2 separate regions of the Homo sapiens genome follow, and region 1 is linked to region 2. Evidence: fine-mapped expression QTL. A gene starts in region 2. The other region holds a variant in brackets. All regions are shown on one strand. Distances are between the middles of the regions. Region 1 overlaps RNF11 (ring finger protein 11). Region 2 holds the start of TTC39A (tetratricopeptide repeat domain 39A).

Region 1 (5,337 bases), 56 kb before region 2:
TTGGAAAGGTATCTATTACATCCTGCTAGCTGACTGACAAAACTAAGCAGGGAGAATAAAGATAATTGTATTTTATGTTTTGCACACAAACGCAGAATTTGTATAACCATATGACTTCATAGTTGTGATCTCAAAAAAGAAGGAATTTCTCCTTTGTTTCTTGCAGTTAATGTAAGAATACTTTAAATCTCTAAGCTTCTGAAGTGTTAGAGGTAGAGATGGTCTAGTAAAGATGTAGTAGTAATGTTTTATCCATTTAGCATGTGTTTATTTTTTCATATGTACTCAAAGGTGACTTATTGGTTCACCTCAGTGATATTACAGCTAAAAAAATCATTCATTAGCAAAAGGAAAAGTGGTCTCAACCTAACATCAGAAGTGTTTCTTATTATTATTTTATATTGAGTTGAATATTGAACTCTAACAGTTTTCTACATACAAAACACAGTGTCATGAAGGTTATTCATAATTGCATTATAGAGGAATGTAGTATGTCATAAGTACTTTGTAAAGATTTGACATTCAACTGTAGTATCCATATGTTGCTTAAATTTCCTTATGAGCCCCATGATGGAAAGACTTAAAGATGAATTTGAGAAAAATTGAAAGAAATTAGATTATCAGGTTCTGTTAAATTGTTACATGTATCTTGCTTAAATTTCTGTTTATTAATTTATATCCACCCAAGTACATAAAGCAAATTTGGAGGAAACAACTGAAGTTGTGCAATATTTTCTGATAATTGCTTTTTTTATTCTTGTGTTTTCTACTTAAACATAATGTCTGTGTCATCAAGTATTATAGTCAGACTTTTCTTTTTTTCTAGATTGTTAAAATTGGCAAATGAACTTTTTTAAAAATCATCTTCCATGTTGCAGTTAGTCTTTCTTTTCATTACAAGTCTTTCACAGAAGTTTGGTGGTAATATTGAAAGAACTAGCATTGGGCAGAATGTGTCTTTTTTAGGCACTTTATATTCTCAACATACAATGTTAAGAACCATCAATTTTGACTTTTACTAAGTTGTTAAATAAAGTTATAATACAGCTGTGAAGGGCTAAAGTTAGAGTTGATTACATAAGTAAGTATTCCCCATATAATCTTTTAAAAAGTTGTGTATGATTATTTTAAAATCTCTCTCTCTATATATACCTGTGGGAAGTATTTTTTATTGTTTGGCATTTAATATCATTTAATCATATACTTAGGCTTGATAGCACCAAAGTTTCTAAAACCAAACAATAGCTATAATCTCTTGATTTAGATATGGGCAAGATATGTCCAAGCTTGGCTGTGGGATTTGAAATTTCTAAAAAGCCTAACCAGGAAGAAACAAAAGAATCTTATCCTTTTGAGTGTAAAACCTAACAAGTTGAAATACTTTCAGATATTTGTAGTTTACCTAACACAAACTTAAAAAATTCTGTGAGTTTCTTGATAGGGAATCTCCTCAGTCGGTACTAGAAGACTCGCCCCCTGCTATTGGTGTTTATCATGTGATATAAAACAGTATGATTTCATGCAATAGTAAGCATTGAGATAACAGATCCCCTGCATACAAATCTTCATAAAGAAGCATTCATTTTTAAAAAGGAGCAACACTTAATAAAGTACAGTAATCCCCCTTATCCACGGTTTCTGCCATTTCACATACCCACACACTATGGTGCAAAAAGGTATTTTGAGAGTGAGATACCACAGTTACATAATTTTTTTTTTTTTGAGATGGAGTTTCGCTCTTGTTGCCCAGGCTGGAGTGCAATGGCGCAATCTCGGCTCACTGCAACCTCTGTCTCCTGGGTTCAAGCAATTATCCCGCCTCAGCCTCCCGAGTAGCTGGGATTACAGGCGTGTGCCACCATGCCCGGCTAATTTTGTATTTTTAGTAGAGACGGGGTTTCTCCGTGTTGGTCAGGCTGGTCTTGAACTCCTGACCTCACGTGATCCACCTGTCTC[G/A]GCCTCCCAAAGTGCTGGGATTATAGGCGTGGGCCACTGCGCCTGGCCTCACGTGACTTTTATTACAATCTATAACAACTTTTGTAAATACAGTTTTTAAAAAACACTTAATCTTGGCCGGGCCTGGTGGCTCACACCTGTAATCCCAGCACTTCGGGAGGCCAAGGCAGTTGGATCACTTGAGGTCAGGAGTTTGAGACCAGCCTGGCCAACATGGTGAACCCCGTCTCTACTAAAAATACAAAATTAGCCAGGCATGGTGGTGCACACTTGTAATCCCAACTACTTGGGAGCCTGAGGCAGGAGAGTCACTTGAACCTGCAAGGCGGAGGTTGCAGTGAGCCGAGATCGCACCACCGCACTCCAGCCTGGATAACAGAGTGAGACTCCTCTGCCTCAAAAAAAAAAAAAGAAAAAGACAAAAACTTACTGTTTTACCAGTGTTGTTCCTAATCTCTTACTGTGCCTGATTTACAAATTAAACTTTAGCATAGGTATGTATGTGTAGGTACGTATGTTGTACTATCCACAGTTTGAGATATGCAGTGGGGTTCTTGGAGAGTATACCCCATGGATAGAGTGGGTGATACTGTAGTCAAAAGGAGAACTACCTAAGGTCTTGAGACTGGAGAAGTGGTAAACGAGAGAAAGTATGTTTCTTCAGCATAAGTCACAAAAATAGTTGGTGGCTATCTGTGCTTACAAAAGCAGTGGGTAGCAGTCATGGAGTCAACTGATGAAACTTGCGTGTAAATGCATCTTAGTGTAATAACCTCACCTAATTTTTTAAGCCTTAATTTTAAAATTTGTGGACACAAGAAAAGTTGGATTTTAGGTTAATATCTCTTCAAGTAATGTTAAATTTACCTATCTGAATTTAAATAAACACTTCTATGTTTTTTAATTTTTATTATATTTCTATTTTTAAAATATTTTTTCTTTTAAATATCAACTGCTCTTTTACTGGGCGGGAAGAGATAGAAGACGATTTGACCCGTCCTTCTGTACTTTTTTTTTTGAGACGGACTTTCTCTATCTCCCAGGCTGTAGTGCAGTGGTGTGATCATGGCTCACTCGACTCACTCATTTTGTCTCTTTAAGCCACATTTTCCTCACCATGGGAGTGTTGGTAGATCAGTAGTTCTCTGAGGCCAGGACAACCAGAGCACAATTACCTAGGGCTCTGGATGTTTATTAGTAATGGAGACCCCTATCATATCAGAGTGAGAGAGGAGAAACAGAACTTTTTGAGACAGAGTCTCACTCTATCTCCCAGGCTGGAGGGCAGTGGCACAACTGCTTCCACCTCCCAGGCTCAAGCGACCTTCCCAAGGAGCTGAGACTACAGGTACATGCTACCACACCTGGCTAATTTTTGTATTTTTTTGTAGAGATGAGTTTTTGGCATGTTGCCCAGGCTGGTCTCGAACTCCTGGGCTCCAATGATCCTCCCACCTCAGCCTCCCAAAGTACTGGGGTTACAGGTATGGGTCACTATACCTGGCCATCTATCATTTGTAACAGGTTCTCCAAGTGATTCTGATGCACTAGTAGGTTTTGGAACCATTGGTAGATGATCCCTTCCCAAACTTGTGAAGTACAGGTTTGGTTCTTTTTTTGTTTCCTGAGAAATTAGAAGCAGTATTGGGCACTTGTTGGTTATTCAGAGATTGATTGTCCAGGCACAATTATCTAGACTTTCTGCTCTTCATTTGTCCTTTTGCTATTTCCTTGCTCTTTAGCATAGATACAGAGCATCCAGATAAGTAAGTCCCTTTACAACCTATTTCCTGATTTTACAAGCTTCTTCCATCAGAGGCACCAGTGAATTATAAAAAGGGTTTGAGATTTATTTGCACATTTTAATTGTCCACATTGTTTGCTTTATCACACTGAGCACTTAGGCACAAGCTTTTGTTTTGGAGACAGGGTCTCACTGTGTCCCCCAAGCTGTAGTGCAGTGGTTTGATCATGGCTCACCGTAAGTTCAGACTCCTGCGCTCAAGTGATTTTTCCCACATCAGCCTCTCGAGTAGCTGGGATTGACTGCAGGTGCGCTCAACCACGTCCAGCTAATGTTTTGTTTTTTTGTAGAGACTGAGTCTCACTATGTTGCCCAGGCTGGCCTGAAACTCCTGGCCTCAAGAGCTTCTCCTGCCTCAGCCTCCCAACGTGCTGGGATTATAGGCCTGAGTCACTGCTCCCAGCCTGGCACTGCCTTAGGACAGTAGCTGGATGCATCTGATTAATGTTATTAACTGACTAAAGCCATTTATTGTTTCTTCACATACAGTTTTTTAATAAAAGTATGGTCGAGATTACCTTTTCATTACATTTCTGTTTCTTGAGAAAAATTACTGTTCACTGGCACATTTAGTCATCTTCAGGTGCTTCCCATAGAAAGTTTGTTTTTCTCTTTGAATGAAGGAGTGTTAGCAATAGGCACATGTTTTAGGCATCTAAAACTGATGGTGATGAAAGGAGCAGCGCCTATTTGCTTTGAACCCTTCCTCTAATATTTGTGCTTGTGGGCTCCACATCTCTTAGCACTGAGAAAAAGAAGTTGTTGAGGAAGATACTAAGGGGTCTCCCTAAGTGTCTTGTCATGGCAGTGTGTACTCTGAATGCCTGTGAGAAGATTTGGTTGGCTATGCAAAAAAAGTTCAACTTCTCACTGGAGGCCACCACAGTAGCTAATCTGGTCAGTTAGTACCCAAAAGCAAGTTTTAAGCATTGTGTGTGAATTGAGAAGCCTGGACTACTATACTATCAGAAAGACACTGAGATTGGCTTCCAGCATTATCCAAATGAGGTGCAGGAATAGGCTACATTCTGCCAACCCCAGAATTAGAGCCAGGCCTTCAGCTTTGAAACAATGCAGAATGATGATCCTCTATGCAAAAGCTTAGCTGAACTGGGTAAACACATTATAAAAGTTAACAGCTACAACTTCACAGTGTGCAAAGTGTGGGAAGAGAAGAGGTTTGGTCTTCGTGCTGCTTGCTTACACTCATCACTATCTGTAGTGTTACCCTGACACGAGGAAGAATAATTCATAGGCATTCTTTTTTTTTTTTTTTTTTTTTGAGACAGAGTTTAGCTCTTGTTGCCCAGGCTGGAGTGCAATGGCATGATCTCGACTCACCGCAACCTCCGCCTCCCAGGTTCAAGCAATTCTCCTGCCTCAGCCTCCCGAGTAGCTGGGATTACAGGCATGCACCACCATGCCTGGCTAATTTTCTATTTTAGTAGAGACGGGGTTTCTCCATGTTGAGGCTGGTCTCGAACTCCTGACCTCCAGGTGATCCGCCTGCCTCGGCCTCCCAAAGTGCTGGGATTACAGGCGTGAGCAACCGCGCCCGGCCGGCATTCTTATTTCTG
Region 2 (5,378 bases):
TGGCCAGGCTGATCTCAAACTCCTGATCTCAAGTCATCCACCTGCCTGGGCCTCCCAAAGTGCTGGGATTATAGGCGTGAGCAACTGCGTGCGGCTTTACCATCATTTCTTGATCAAGTAGCACTGACTTTATAATGAAACTAAATAACTTTAAAAGATTGAGTGGGCCAGGCGCAGTGGCTTACTCCTGTAATCCCAGCACTTCAGGAGGCCAAGGAAGGAGGATCGCTTGAACCCAGTAGTTTGAGACCAGTCTGGGCAACAAAGTGAGATCCTGTCTCTATTTTATTTTATTTTATTTTATTTAAGATCGAGTGCACATATCCAACAACCCAGCAATTCCACTACTAAGGGGGCACCCTCGTGAAACACATGTGCAAACACCATCATACAAGAATATTCACTGTCTGAATAGCAAGACACTGGGAACACTTCGACATCCATCAAGAAGGATAAACAAATGGAGGTGTCTACATAGGGTGGTATATCACACATCAGGGCAAGTGGGACAAGAGCTACAGGATCAAGGCTAAATCTGAGACCTGAAGTTGAGTGTGAAAACGCGAGCTGCAGCATGACACATGCTATAGGACTCCATTCACAGAAAACTTTGAAGAACAAACTACATATTTTTAAGACTTACACACACTGAGTAAAAGAATAAAAACAGAGAAATGATAAAACCTAAATTCAGGATGGCAAGTAATTCTGGAGAGGGAAGGAGGGAAGAGGTTTCCACAAGACTTTCAAGGGTCTCTACTATGGTTTATTTCTTAAAAAGAATATAAAATAAATGGGGCACAATGTTAATATCTGACAAAGTTGGGTGGCAAGGGTTTGTGAGTTCATTTTACTATTTGCTATATTTTTCTGAAGGCTTAAAATATTTCATAATTTTTAAAAAGGTAGAGATTTAAGGCTTGATTTGTTCACCAATGACCATCTGGGCCCAGAGCAGGCCTTGCTGAGTGTCTGTTGAGTGAGTGTCTCTGTAGTGAAGGTGAGAATGGTCCTGCTGCGTGCGGCCCTCCTCTGCTCAGACCCCACCAGGATGACACTAGCCAGGGTTGGGGACAGATGGACAGGTGGCTTCAAAGAAGAGTGGGCAGGCATGCAGAGAGGCAGGTACGGTTCTGCATAAGGAAGACCCACCAGCGTGAGAAGAGCAAGCTTGCTGTCCTGAGGCCTGCAGCAGGGCCAGAGGTGCCCGGGGTTGTAGAGGGCACTTAGGCAGGGATGTAAGCATATAAGGAAGTGGGATGAATGTGGTTTTCAGCCAGGGAGTCTAGACTTCTTTGATAGATACCTTGCTCCATGCCCGCCTTCTCTCCTGGAAACCACTTTTCTGGACCCAGCAGGGTGGTGGTGCTCAGTCAGGGCTGCACAGAAGGAACCTACCCAACCTCCAGCTTTACAAATACTTGAGCCCAGAACAGGAAAGGAACAGCCAGCCCCACTTCTGTGTTTTCCAAAGGAGGGACCAGAAGTCTAGGAAGGGTTAAGGACTTGGCCAAAGTCACACAACAAAAATGATGAAGCTGAAACTCACCAGGCAACCCTCTCCCAGGCCAGGGTGTCCCCCAGCAACCCAGCTTCCAAGCCCTGATAGAGCCACACACACGCAAGCCCTGTGGAGACTTCCAGCTGCCAGCTGGCACCAGCCTCGTCACCTCCCTGTTCATGTGTCAAGCCTCGGGCCCTTAGCAAATATTGTCACTGGTGGTGAGGCTCCAGGCAGGGTGAGCCCTCCTCCCAGCTCACCTGGGCCGGCTCTCTGCCCAGCAACCTCCCAGCAGTCAGGGCTCCTAGCAGCTGCCCCCTGCCCTGCCCACTGGGGCCCAGGAAAAGCAGAGAGTTGCTGAAGGTCTCCCGGCAGTAGCGGCTGTCACTGCTACGGGGGGTGATCTAGGTAGGGGTCCTATAGGGGTTTCTCAGTGGGATGTGGGTAGGGTTGGGCAGGAGAGCCACGTTGAAGGTGACAACACCCACTTTTTACTACCCAGGTTCCTGCTGCACCCAATGGGCCCGGCTGGCCCATACCTTAGCTGTTTAAGTTCCCCTAATGTCCCTGAAGATGATGGGGTGGGGGGATCTGACAACAGACAGAACTGAGTTCAAATCCCACCCGCAACTCTTACCTCCTGGGTGACCGATGACAAGTCACTTAAGTGCTGTGTCTCAGTTTCCTCATCTGTAATGGGGATGAGAGTAACAGGGCCCACCCCACAGGAGTGAACGCCACGAGGCAGGTGGGGAAGGCTGCTCTGAACGTGTCTGTGACTACAGCTCCGTGAGAAAGTTGGGACCCAGAAGGTGAGTGACCGACCCGGGGTCCCCGCGCCTCCGCCTCCTCACAGCCCCCTGCCCCCACTCCTGGCAGCGGCGGCGGCTGCCAGGGGCCGGGCGGGGTGGGGGCTGGAAGCCGCAGTGCGGCCCCAGGCCGGTGCGCGGGGGGAGGCCTGGCGCGGCGCCCGCCACCTGCCCGGGCCCCAGCCCGCGCCGCCCGCGCCCCCGGGCCTCCCAGCCGCGCACTTACCCCGCGGGCAGGGCTCCTGGGGCGCCGCCAGCCGAGGTCATCGCCGAGGGGCGCGGGCGGCGCTGCCCCAGCCGGACGCCAATCGCGGCCCAGGTGCTGCCGCCGCAACCCCGAGCCGGGCGCTGTGCGGTCGCGGACGCGGCGGCCGGGGAGGGGCGCGCCGGGGGCGGGGAAGGCGGCGGGGCCGGGCCGAGCCTCGGTCTCCCCACCCGCACCGTAGGGCCATGGCCGCCCGCGGCGACCCGCGCTCCCGCACCGCCGGGGGTTCTGGGCGGCCCCCACCCCCGCTCCGACAGGTGAGAGCCCGGCGCCCTCTGCGCAGACACCGCCCGGGCCGGGAGCTCGCTCCCTCCTCACACGTCCCCACCTATTTGGCGCTAGAAGTTCTTCTCCGGGACCTGAGGTCCACTTTACTGTCACTTCTCCTCCCCACAGCTTCCGCCCCGAAGCGGCCCCCACCTGAGCCGTCACCATCCTCCCGCATTAATGGGGGCATTCGTGCAGACAAAGACAGCCCCCAGAGTCAGGCCTGGATTTTAATCCCACCATCTCGCCCACTGAGTGACTGCAGGAGACCAGAAGGCGGGGAAAACACGGTTTAGCACTCACTGCTAGCTGGCAGTTCACACTGCCTTCTCAAATGATCCCCATAATTGCTATTTTACAGATGGGGAAACTGAGGCATGGGGTTCATTTGATTCACGCATGGTCACTCACCTAATAAGTGGCAAGCTAGGACTGGAATCCATCCCTCCTGAATCCAAAGCCAACACTCTGGCCCCTTTCCCCCTTGGCCCCCTCTCCCCTGCATTCCCAGTGCCTGTGTGGGGGTCACCCACAACGCTCCCCAAATGTCCACTGTGCACCGAGCCCTGAGGCGGTGTCTCCACCTGACCTGATCTTCTGGCACAGAAAGCCACTGGCCCATGAAGAGTTAACCAGTCACCATCTCCTGGCCCCAGATGCTGCTCTTAACCATGACTCATCAGAGCATGTGGCTGCCATTAGAGCTGTCCCTTCACAAAGGAGGGGACAGAAGTAAGGAAGGACTGTAGCTCCCCTGGAGCAACTATGACCTCCAGGACGTCAGAAGAGGAAGCAGAAGGGGACAGCCTGCAGAAGCAACCACGGTGGGAACAGGACTTGTACCAGATCCCAGGGGAGCCAGGCAGTTTGGGCTTGGTGGTAGCTGCTTAAAATCTAAGCAGGCTGCCTGGAAAGGCAGTGAAGTCCCATCCTGCCCATTTGTGAGCAGGGGCAGATGCTCACTTGCAAGAATCATCCCATCTCTAGGAGTCTCATATACAGGCACGAAAAAGATAATTAACTACTAGAAGTAAGCTATGATGACATCCACCAGCAACTATAAAGAATCCAGACAAGGGGAGAGACTGGGGAGCTTCCTGGAAGAGGTGGTGACAGAACTGAGCCTTGAAGTTTATATTATTTAAACAAACTGAAGTCATGGAGAGGGTGTACCAGATCGGGGAGCAGCATGGATGAAGGCATGGAAGTGGGAAAGGGTGAGGCTGGTGAGACCACAAGCAATACATGTAAAGAGGATGATGAGGCTGGGGCCCCTATCACATGTCATGCACTTTCAAATCTCTAGGCATTTAAACATGCTGTTCCCTCTGTGTGGAACACACCTTCCTCCCTTGTCACTTGTTAGTCATTCATGTAACCGGGGGTGGATCCAGAAGCTTACAATGGGGAGGCCGCTGTTCAAAAAAAGAATACAAATTTACCAATACAGGTTGAGCATTCCTAATTTGAAAATCCGAAATCCAGAATGCTCCAAAATTTGAAGCTTTTTTTATTTTCTCTTTTTTTTGAGACAAAGTCTCACTCTGTTACCCAGGCTGGAGTGCAGTGGCACAATCTCGTGATCTTGGCTCACCACAACCTCCGTCTCCTGGGTTCAAGTGATTCTCATCCCACAGCCTCCCGAGTAGCTGAGATTACAGGCATGTGCCACCATGCCCAGCTGATTTTTGTATTTTTAGTAGAGACAGGGTTTTGCCATGTTGGCCAGGCTGGTCTCAAACTCTGGACCTCAAGTGATCCGCCTACCTTGGCCTCCCACAGTGGGATTACAGGCGTAAGCCACCGCGCCCGGCCTGAAACTTGAAGCTTTTTGAGCACTGTAGTTGGAGACTGCAGGCCTGCCATGTTTGCTGTGCTGTTGTTACAGCGGACACAGGCATTCTACTGATGCTCACGTGCTGCTGAGTTACCCTGAACACTATTTTTTCACTGCATTAATGGTATGTTATATTTTTATTGTTAAGTACTTATGTGTGAATAAGGGTAAAAAAATGCTTATTGGGAGCACATAAATTCAGAGTCAAAAATGATGATGATGCCAAATAATCACAGATTGTCCACATGGATGGCTGAGAGAGTGACACTTCTTTCTGATGGTTCAGTGTACACAAACTTTGTTTCATGCACAAAATTATTAAAAATATTGTGTATAAAATTACCTTTAGGTGGCTGGGCATGGTGGCTCATGCCTGTAATCCCAGCACTTTGGGAGGCTGAGACAGGCAGATCACCTGAGGTCAAGAGTTCGAGACCAGCCTGACCAACATGGAGAAACCCCATCTCTACTAAAAATACAAAATTAGATAGGCATGGTGGCGCACGCCTGTAATCTCAGCTACTCGGGAGGCTGAGGCAGGAGAATCGCTTGAACCCGGAAGGCGAAGGTTGCAGTGAGCTGAGATCACATCATTGCACTCCAGCCTGGGTTAACAAGAGCAAAACTCCATCGCCCCCACCAAAAAAAAAAAAAAAAAAAAAATGACCATTAGGCTATGTGTATAAGTTGTATATGAAA

What was found. PIP is the estimated chance that this variant, and not a neighbour inherited with it, causes the effect.
Region 1: its variant is the best candidate, but not a certain one, in a credible set for the expression of TTC39A in lung (TOPMed, PIP 0.86).

The regions. Positions count from the first base shown.
Region 1 is chr1:51,272,394-51,277,730 of GRCh38, forward strand. RNF11 (ring finger protein 11) reads left to right here. Exons shown (of 3, transcript NM_014372.5): 3 at 1-1,054. Among named protein-coding and RNA genes, the nearest start is that of RNF11, 39 kb to the left of the region's middle. The variant G/A (reference allele first, on the strand shown) is at 1,957.
Region 2 is chr1:51,327,901-51,333,278 of GRCh38, forward strand. It overlaps TTC39A (tetratricopeptide repeat domain 39A), which reads right to left and starts at 2,662. Exons shown (of 18, transcript NM_001297663.2): 1 at 2,537-2,662. The coding sequence starts at 2,577. TTC39A-AS1 (TTC39A antisense RNA 1) reads left to right here and starts at 1,754. Exons shown (of 3, transcript NR_123731.1): 1 at 1,754-1,909; 2 at 2,230-2,313; 3 at 2,972-3,381. RefSeq lists a silencer at 2,635-2,704 and an enhancer at 3,522-3,571.